2 separate regions of the Homo sapiens genome follow, and region 2 is linked to region 1. Evidence: fine-mapped expression QTL. A gene starts in region 1. The other region holds a variant in brackets. All regions are shown on one strand. Distances are from middle to middle. Region 1 holds the start of ZNF283 (zinc finger protein 283). Region 2 overlaps ZNF283 (zinc finger protein 283).

Evidence for each region. PIP is the estimated chance that this variant, and not a neighbour inherited with it, causes the effect. A credible set is the group of variants that fine-mapping cannot tell apart.
Region 2: its variant is the best candidate, but not a certain one, in a credible set for the expression of ZNF283 in whole blood (INTERVAL, PIP 0.50).

What each region holds. Positions count from the first base shown.
Region 1 is chr19:43,825,671-43,830,069 of GRCh38, forward strand. It overlaps ZNF283 (zinc finger protein 283), which reads left to right and starts at 1,651. Exons shown (of 7, transcript NM_181845.2): 1 at 1,651-1,774; 2 at 2,532-2,611. RefSeq lists an enhancer at 1,509-1,708.
Region 2 is chr19:43,848,142-43,852,540 of GRCh38, forward strand. It overlaps ZNF283 (zinc finger protein 283), which reads left to right. Exons shown (of 7, transcript NM_181845.2): 7 at 1-3,876. The coding sequence ends at 500. Among named protein-coding and RNA genes, the nearest start is that of ZNF283, 23 kb to the left of the region's middle. The variant A/T (reference allele first, on the strand shown) is at 2,002.

The sequences.
Region 1 (4,399 bases):
GGAAAATCAAACATCGTATATTCTCACTCATAAGTGGGAGCTAAGGTGTGAGGATGCAAAGGCCTAAGAATGACACAGTGGACTTTGGGGACTTGGGGGAAAGGGTGGAAAGGGGGTGAGGGATAAAAGACTAAAAATTGGGTGCCATGTACACTGTTCAGGTGATGGGTGCACCAAAATCTCACAAATCACCACTGAAGAAGTTACTCATGTAACCAAACACCACCTGTTTCCCAAAAACCTATGGAAATAAAAAATTAAAAAAAAATCAGACCCCCAAAATATTCAGAGTAGTACTTGTGGGAGTCATTGAGCAAGTAACATGGGAAGAGAGGAGGCTGCTTCCACCAGTGGTTTTGGAGGTGGAGCAGATGCTGATGATAATGAAGTCCCAGATGGGAAACGGGGATGGGTGCCGAGGAAAGCTCAAGGACCCTGCAGATGAGGACTCAGACCCACGATACTGGATGAGGCATCCATGTCACCATGGGAGTCAACCAGGGTAGTGGCCTCAGCTGAGGCAGGGGAAAAGCTGGGATCCAAGAGCTCTAGTCTTCTCTTGATAAGCAAGAGAGACCAGGAGGTGAGAGATGGCAGAGGATGAGAGAGGTGATATCAGTGACCAGAAAGAGCCCCTAAAAAGTAACTTCCTTTTCTTTCTGTTAGTTTTAATATAAAATTTCGCTTTAATATTTTTAGACAATTCTTTTTTAAAAAAGTATTTATATCCAAAGGTTCTTACCACACCAACCACAGCCCCAATCTTTTTGCCCTAACCTCAGAATCAGTTAGTTGTCTCCTTTAAAACCTTTCTCTCTCTCACACACCCACACACACACACACGCAAACACACAGGAGAGAGAGAGAGGGAATATATAGTATTGTTTTTGGAGTATGAGTGTGTGCTTCAGAATAAATGGTTTCATACTCTATAAAAAATGAGATTCAAATTTTATAATCCATCAAGTTTTATTGGAACACAGCCATGCTGGATTGCTTGTGCATTGTTTATGGCCGCCTTTGCACTGCCATAAGTCTCCACGGTCACAATATCCACTCACTACCACTTATTGTTGTCTTTCAACAGCGGCATATAAAATCTGTAACACAGTTCATCTCACACCTAATAAAACAGACTCACACAGGCATAAATTTAGAAAACATCCCATGAACATAAACAGGTCCACGCAGGGTCCCAGACACCGAATCGAACTAAGAAACTCCCTCACAGCAAGACACACCCATCTGTTCAATTGCCAGACACTGTTCCAGGCGCTCATACCCAGGTAAACTGGTAGTGTCGCGCAGGTCATTTCCAGCGAACTTACCCCGGATTCCCTTGCTCGCTCACGTCTAAGTCCCCAGACACCCCAGTCCCATCTTCGCCTGTTCTAGACTCCAGAATGCGTTCCTTAGCGAAAGCTGAGAACCTTTTAATTCGCTCTCAGTCAACACCAAAGACCCTCAAGCAAAAGCAAGAGCTCCCGGGCGTCTTCGAAAAAAGCGCCTTTGACAGGTGAAGCCAAGTTGCATGCTGGGAGCATCCCTGCTGTCCAGGTTTCAACTTCCGGAGACTCTGCCGCTGTGGACTACATTTCCCAGAAGTCTCCGGGGCACAGGCCTTTTAGGGGCGGGGCGAGCTTGCCTGCCAGAAGCTCCTCTCCCAGCCTGCGAGCATTTCCAGGCTCTTGTTTCCCATCAGCCTCTGGGTCCAAACTAACCACAGGTCTCTGGGTCCTTTTCCGGTGTCCTTAAGGTTCTTGGACTCTGCATGGTGAGTTGGTCGTGTCTGTAGAAGTAATCAGCCCGGGTGAAGCTGGGAGGGCTCGGCTGGCTTTACTGGGGCCCGACTGGAACCGGCAGTGAGGGTGGGGGTGGCATCGGGGGTGCTGGAGGTGGGGAGGGCTGGGTCACGGACAGAGCGTGTCGTGTCCGGATCCTCAAGCCTGTGTGCACGCGAGCAGCCGAGGGACAGTGTGTCTCAGACGGCGTGGCAGGGACGGGGCGTGTCCCCACGGAGGTGGGTGCAGTTGTGAATGTGTGACGGGCTGACAGGGTGCGTGGCCGTATTTGTAAATGTGATTTGCTTTGACCAAATGCTCTAGGTTCCCTTTAGCCTGTCTTCGGGCCTGCCACAATTAAATGACCGCAAGAAAGAAGTCTATGCTAAGCCCCATAATGAACGTTTCAAGCAAGAAGGATGAGAATTTTAGATCTGGAAGTGTCCGCGGGACAGGATCTTGTCAAGACCTGATGGGGAAGTTCTAGAGGTGGGATTCCTAGAAGAGGGGCCTCTAGGAGCTCTTTGGTGGTGAGCTACATGTTTCAGAGCCATTGCAAGCAGACCTCTGTCCCCAAGAATTGCCCTCAACACAGAGACAGACTCTAGCCTCCCTTTTCATTCCGTTTGGTTTTGTGTGGATGAAGGCAGAAGTGGCCCCAGAGGGTGTTTTGCTCTTCTTTTTCTTTTTTAATTAAGTCTGTGACGCGCTAGAAATGCTGATGTCTCATGTTACTGTTTTTTCCCCCAGTGCTGCCAGGTTGCCAGATTTCTAAGAAGGAGTTTGAAGAGGAGAAAAGGATTTTTGCATGTTTAGAAATCAAGGTTCAGGTGAGGTTTTTTATACATACTTTTTAAATACATACACATACAATTACCTTTGCTTCTAGGTCATGAGAACATTTTCTTTCCTTGGCCTGAAATATCTTGACTGGGTTTTCCCAGTTACATGACCCGCCATGCTGGTACATATTTCCTCCCAGTGGCCCCCTATTGTTCTTCTCCACAATTCTTACCCACCTGTTCATATGGCAAATTGTTCAAATACTTCAGTGCATTATGATGCACTGAAGAGTTATAGAAAGGCACCTCTTGTAGATTGCTATTAGAGCATTATTTTATACTATGATTATTTGAAGAGATTAGTAATTAGGTGGTGTTATATAAACATTATTTTTTATCTTTTCTGTAGTCATAATTAAAATTTTTTTTTAACTTTTTTTAGAGACAAGGTCTCACTCTGTTGCCCAGGCTGAGTGCAGTAGTATAGTCATAGCTCAGTGCAACCTTGAAGTCCTGGGCTCAGGTGTTCCTCTGGCCTTGGCGTCCCAAAGTGCTGGGACTGCAGGTGTGAGCCACCATGCCTGGCCCATAGTCATGATGCTTAAAGAAAGGCAAGGTATAAGGGATTTTAAGTAAGGGAATGTTTCTGGCAGTAAATGACAATGTTGTCTGCTTTGTGAGGCTTTTAGGGGTGGAAATATGATTGAGCTTTGAACATAGGGATTTGTAATTTGCACCAACAAGAGTGGGGACTTTCAGATAATCTTTAGATAGAAATCTGTAACATTTCCAAGCATGACTTGTTTGAAGTCCAGCTTTCTGTGGCATGTAAGAAGCCGTACTATGTTGTAGTTAAAAATAAGGCCCTGGGGTCGGGCACAGTGGCTCACGCCTGTAATCCCAGCACTTTGGGAGGCTGAGGGAGGTGGATCATGAAGTCAGGAGATCGAGAACATCCTGGCTAACACGGTGAAACCCCGTCTCCACTAAAAATACAAAAAATTAGCTGGGCGTAGTGGTAGGCGCCTGTAGTCCCAGCTACTCGGGAGGCTGAGGCAGGAGAATGGCGTGAACCCGGGCGGTGGAGGTTGCAGTGAGCCAAGATTGCACCACTGCACTCCAGCCTGGGTGACAGAGAGAGACTCCATCTCGAAAAAACAGCAACAACAAAAAAATTAAGGCTCTGGATCCAAAGTATCTGAATTCAAATCCTGGCTCTGCCTGTTGGTAGCTGTGTGTGCTTAGACAATTGATTCAGGCCCTCTGTGCCACATCTATAAAATAGGGACAGGATAGTACCTACCTAATGGAGTTGATATGATGTAAGATGAGATATTATATGTAAAGCTTCGTAGAGCAGTGTCATCCCCATGATATGGGCTTACTGAATATTGAGTTGCTATTATTGGGCTCTTCTAGATTATTTCCCATAAACTTTTTATAGATTAGAGTAACAGAAGTATGAAGTTGATTGTGACGGGTGCTTGCAAATTAACTAAAAAAGTGGGGGCTGGGCACGGTGGCTCACACCTGTAATCCCAGCACTTTGGGAGTCCGAGGCGGGTGGATCACAAGGTCAGAAGTTCGAGACCAGCCTGGCCAGCATGGTGAAACCCCGTCTCTACTAAAAATACAAAAAATTAGCCGGGCATGGTGGCGGGTGGCTGTAGTCCCAGCTACTCGGGAGGCTGAGGCAGGAGAATTGCTTGAACCCAGCAGGCGGAGGTTGTAGTGTGCCGAGATCGCGCCACTGCACTCCAGCCTGGGTAACAGAGCAAGACTGTCTCACACACAGACACGAAAAAGTGACCACATGCTCAAATGATCTAGGACAGG
Region 2 (4,399 bases), 22 kb after region 1:
CCTATGAATGTAAGGAATGTGGGAAGGCTTTTAATTGTGGATCAAGCCTTGTTCAACATGAAAGAATCCATACAGGGGAGAAACCCTATGAATGTAAAGAATGTGGGAAGGCTTTTAGTCGTGGCTATCACCTTACTCAACATCAGAAAATTCATACCGGTGAGAAACCTTTCAAATGTAAGGAATGTGGGAAGGCCTTCAGTTGGGGTTCAAGCCTAGTTAAGCATGAGAGAGTCCATACTAATGAGAAGTCTTATGAATGTAAAGACTGTGGGAAGGCCTTTGGTAGTGGCTATCAACTTAGTGTTCATCAGAGATTTCATACTGGTGAGAAGCTTTATCAACGTAAGGAATTCGGGAAGACCTTTACTTGTGGCTCAAAACTTGTTCATGAGAGAACTCATAGTAATGATAAACCCTACAAATATAACGAATGTGGGGAAGCCTTTCTGTGGACAACTTACTCAAATGAGAAAATTGATACTGATGAAACCTTATGATTGAAAGTTGTAAAAGAATATTTTGTGTGTGTGTATAGACAACTTATCATAATAAGAACTCTTACTCTTGAGAAACCTTGTGAATGTAAGGGTTGTGCAAAAGCCATTCATTTCTGTTTATGGGCAATTATCTTGCTATCCAGCAATTCATACTAGTGAGAAATATTTTGAATATAATTAATATGAAAAGGCCTTTAGACTTCTGTACAGTCTTATTGGATATCAATTTATACTGATGTAAAATCATTTAAATGTAAGGAATGTGTGAAGATCTTCATTCATGACATAAGGTCTGATTAACATCAAATAATTGGTATTTGTTAAAAAGAGTTTAAATAGGAGGAATGTGGGAAGGACCTAAACTTAATTCAGTTCTTGCTGCACATCAGAGAATTCATACTGCTGTGTAATCCTATGCACATAAGGAATTTGGGAAGGCTTATAGACACAGTAAATATCTTAGAGTACATCAGAGAATTCATCCAAATGAGAAATCATTTGAATTAGAATTATAGGAAGGCCTTTAGACAAATGCTACCCAAATTATTATCCAGAGACTGGTGCAGTCATAAAATTGTCATCTGTCAATTGTGAGATAAACGTGGAAAGTGAGTAAATATTTGGAACTTTTATAGCAATTTGACATTTCCATAACATTCTGTTTTACAAAATTATCAGTCCATAAATGATTGAGAATTGAAAACAAAGTTTGTTCTTTCCCAGAAATAATTTGAGACAAGACTCACACTTTTCAAGACATGAGACAAGTGACAATTTAAATAAGAAATTCTTCACTTGCACCTCTCTGATTAGAATAGCAGAATATTCATACTATAGCAAGATTTGGCAAATGAGGGAATCAAAATTTTCTAATGCCTGTAACAGCATAAGATAATTTATACCAGATATGTTAAATGTGCAGAAGCCTTCCAACACTATTCAGTCTTTGTTAAACTTCAGTAAGTTCATCCTAGAGAGTAACTCTGTTAATGTAACAAATGTAGGAAAACCCTTATCCATGGCAAATACCATACTGTCATCACCATTTCACCTCCATACTACCTGTAGGATGGTGAGCAAAATGCTTATCTCTTCTGGACATGATGTTTCAAATGCTGATGGTAACTAATAATGCTGTTACAGAGATTAGATGGATTTAGTATGCATCATATCCTTGGAAGAGTATCTGGTATGTAGCCTATGCTTAATACATATTAGCTATTGTTCATATTGTCTTTATTATTAGTATTACTACTGGTGAATTCTTAGGAGAGGCACAACCGTTTTGAGGAATGAATTCAGAAAAGCTTCCCATAACCACTCATCCATTTGAATTTCAGATAGTTCATTCTGGATAAGATCTAGTACAGTATAAAGAATTTGAGGGGATTTTAATTCAGAGTTTATCCCTTAAGCTGAGCTAAAAAAATGAGACTTGAAAAAATCCAGACTTTTGAAGAGTTTAGGAAAGCTGTTTTATAGAATGTCACACATTAGTTTC[A/T]TTCCTCATGGTGAAATTTGATATGGGCCTCTCCTTCACATTTCTCGTAACATGAAGTTGGAAATAGAGGCTTAAACATTTTTTACCAGAACACTTCATAGATGGTGATGTGTACTTCATCTTGCAATACCTCAGAAGCAGATAGTATCCATTTCCCCCAGTATCACCAGTGCCAAGTTTGATCACTTATGGTAACTACTGGAGTTGTCTGTTATAAAGATCCATTATATACCTAATAGGATTGGTCAGCCTTGATCAATGATCTTTGGAAATGTGTGATCATATGGTATGTATTTTACTTTTTTTTTTTTTTGGGACAGGATCTCTCTTTCTGTCACCAAGGCTGGAGTGCAGTGGTGTGATTTCGGCTCACTGCAACCTGCACCTCTCGGGTTCAAGTGATTCTCGTGCCTCAGCCTCCCAAGTAGCTGGATACACAGGTGTGCACCACCATACTGGCTAATTCTTGTATTTTTAGTAGAGATGGGGTTTTGCCATGTTGGTCCAGGCTGATCTTGAACTCCTGCACCTGCCTCAGCCTCCCAAAGTGTTGGGATTACAGGTGTGAGACACTGCGCCTGGCTATATTTTACTATTTGGAAATCACAATGCATCTTAAAATTGATGGCTTCTTGCAACCACTTTCAACCAGGTGCCTGTCATGATTTAGTGCTAGCATCAAGGCAGGTTAGTTATGAAGAAATAGAGTGTGTGTTTATATACTCACACAGTTAGAAATCGACCCTTTTAAAAATTATTTCTTTTTGAAAATAATGTCAGTTCCATCAGAACTAATGCATTGATAACTAAATGTCTGTGGTTCCTTGTCATAGGTCTACACCTGACCTCTCTATTTTGTGCACATAGGGGATTCGTAATATCACTGTTCAGTCAGTCATTCACCATCTAGTGATCATCATTCTACATGATTGCACTTTTTCAAAGGCATAAAAAGCCAACAGTTGCACTCTTAATAATCAACTGTAACACAAAGCAGAGTACTTTGGGAGTTTTAACAGGATATATTATTGGTAACTGGCTATTATGCCACTCCCTCTGGGTGCCACATTTGCCTGTTAACCAAGAAATGTAGACATGGTGCCTTATCCCAACATTTCTGAAATTATATCTCAAGGAATCACCAGTGCTTACTAGTACTTGACAATGAAGGAGGATTTTACAGTTAAAGAAGCTTATAAAGTAGCATCTACTAAATCCCCTCCTAAGGAACAAGCAAAAGCACCTCACCAGCTTATCAAAAGACTAAAGAGAAGTGAAAAAAAAAAAAAGACGGCCGGGCGCGGTGGCTCATGCCTGTAATCCCAGAACTTTGGGAAGCCGAGGCGGGCGGATCACGAGGTCAGGAGATCAAGACCATCCTGGCTAACACGGTGAAACCCCGTCTCTACTAAAAATAGAAAAAATTAGCCGGGCGTGGTGGCGGGCGCCTGTGGTCCCAGCTACTCGGGGAGGCTGAGGCAGGAGAATGGCGTGAACCCGGGAGGCAGAGCTTGCAGTGAGCCGAGATTGCGCCACTGCACTCCAGCCTGGGCGACAGAGCGAGACTCCGTCTCAAAAAAATAAAAATAAAAAAAGACTAAGGAGTATTCTAGTGAAGAAAATGGTTGAACTTTGTTTAAACTGGTGTATGGCAAACTTCACTGTTGAAATACTTATTCCCATGACCTATTATCTTTGTAGGTGGGTGAAATTGCATTGGGAACTGCTGCTATAACCAAAAGAGAATTTCAGTCACCATGTCTGGTTGTTAGCTATGATGGAATGGCAGCATCATGGTCTCAGTTATGAGTGAAAATCTTTGTTGTAGCTAAGTAGTGGTGCCTCCTGAGTTTTATTAAATGCCGTTTCACTATCTTTTTCTGCACTTCTATAGTATTTAATTTGTTCATGTGATAATTTATTCTGATAGATTCACTGACTTTTTCCCATTCCTGGATATTCCAGGTTAGTCATAGTATCCTTCTGATGCATTGCTTGATTTCATTTTGCCATTTTATTTAGTATTTTTGCATCTCATGAGTGAGATTATATAATAGTTTTCTTTTTTATTGTATTTTTGTTTGTTTTGGTATTGCAATAGCCTGTTTTTTAATATTGTATGATCCTATTAGGTTATTTTGTTTGATCCTTGACCACTTTTCTAGTTCCATCTGTTGCATTTTTTTTTGTCTTTTAATTCCTACTTCAGACATAACAGATTTATTGAGTGTTAGCACAGTTCCTTTAAGGAGCCTTCATAGCCATGTAGTACTAGCCAAGATCCGCATAAAAGACGCATCCCAGCATGGCCCCTAAAATCCTTCATTATGTGCTCTTAAGAATAATGTGTTGGGAAGTCAGAACTTCCTTATAGGGCTGTTATGATCATACTTGTACA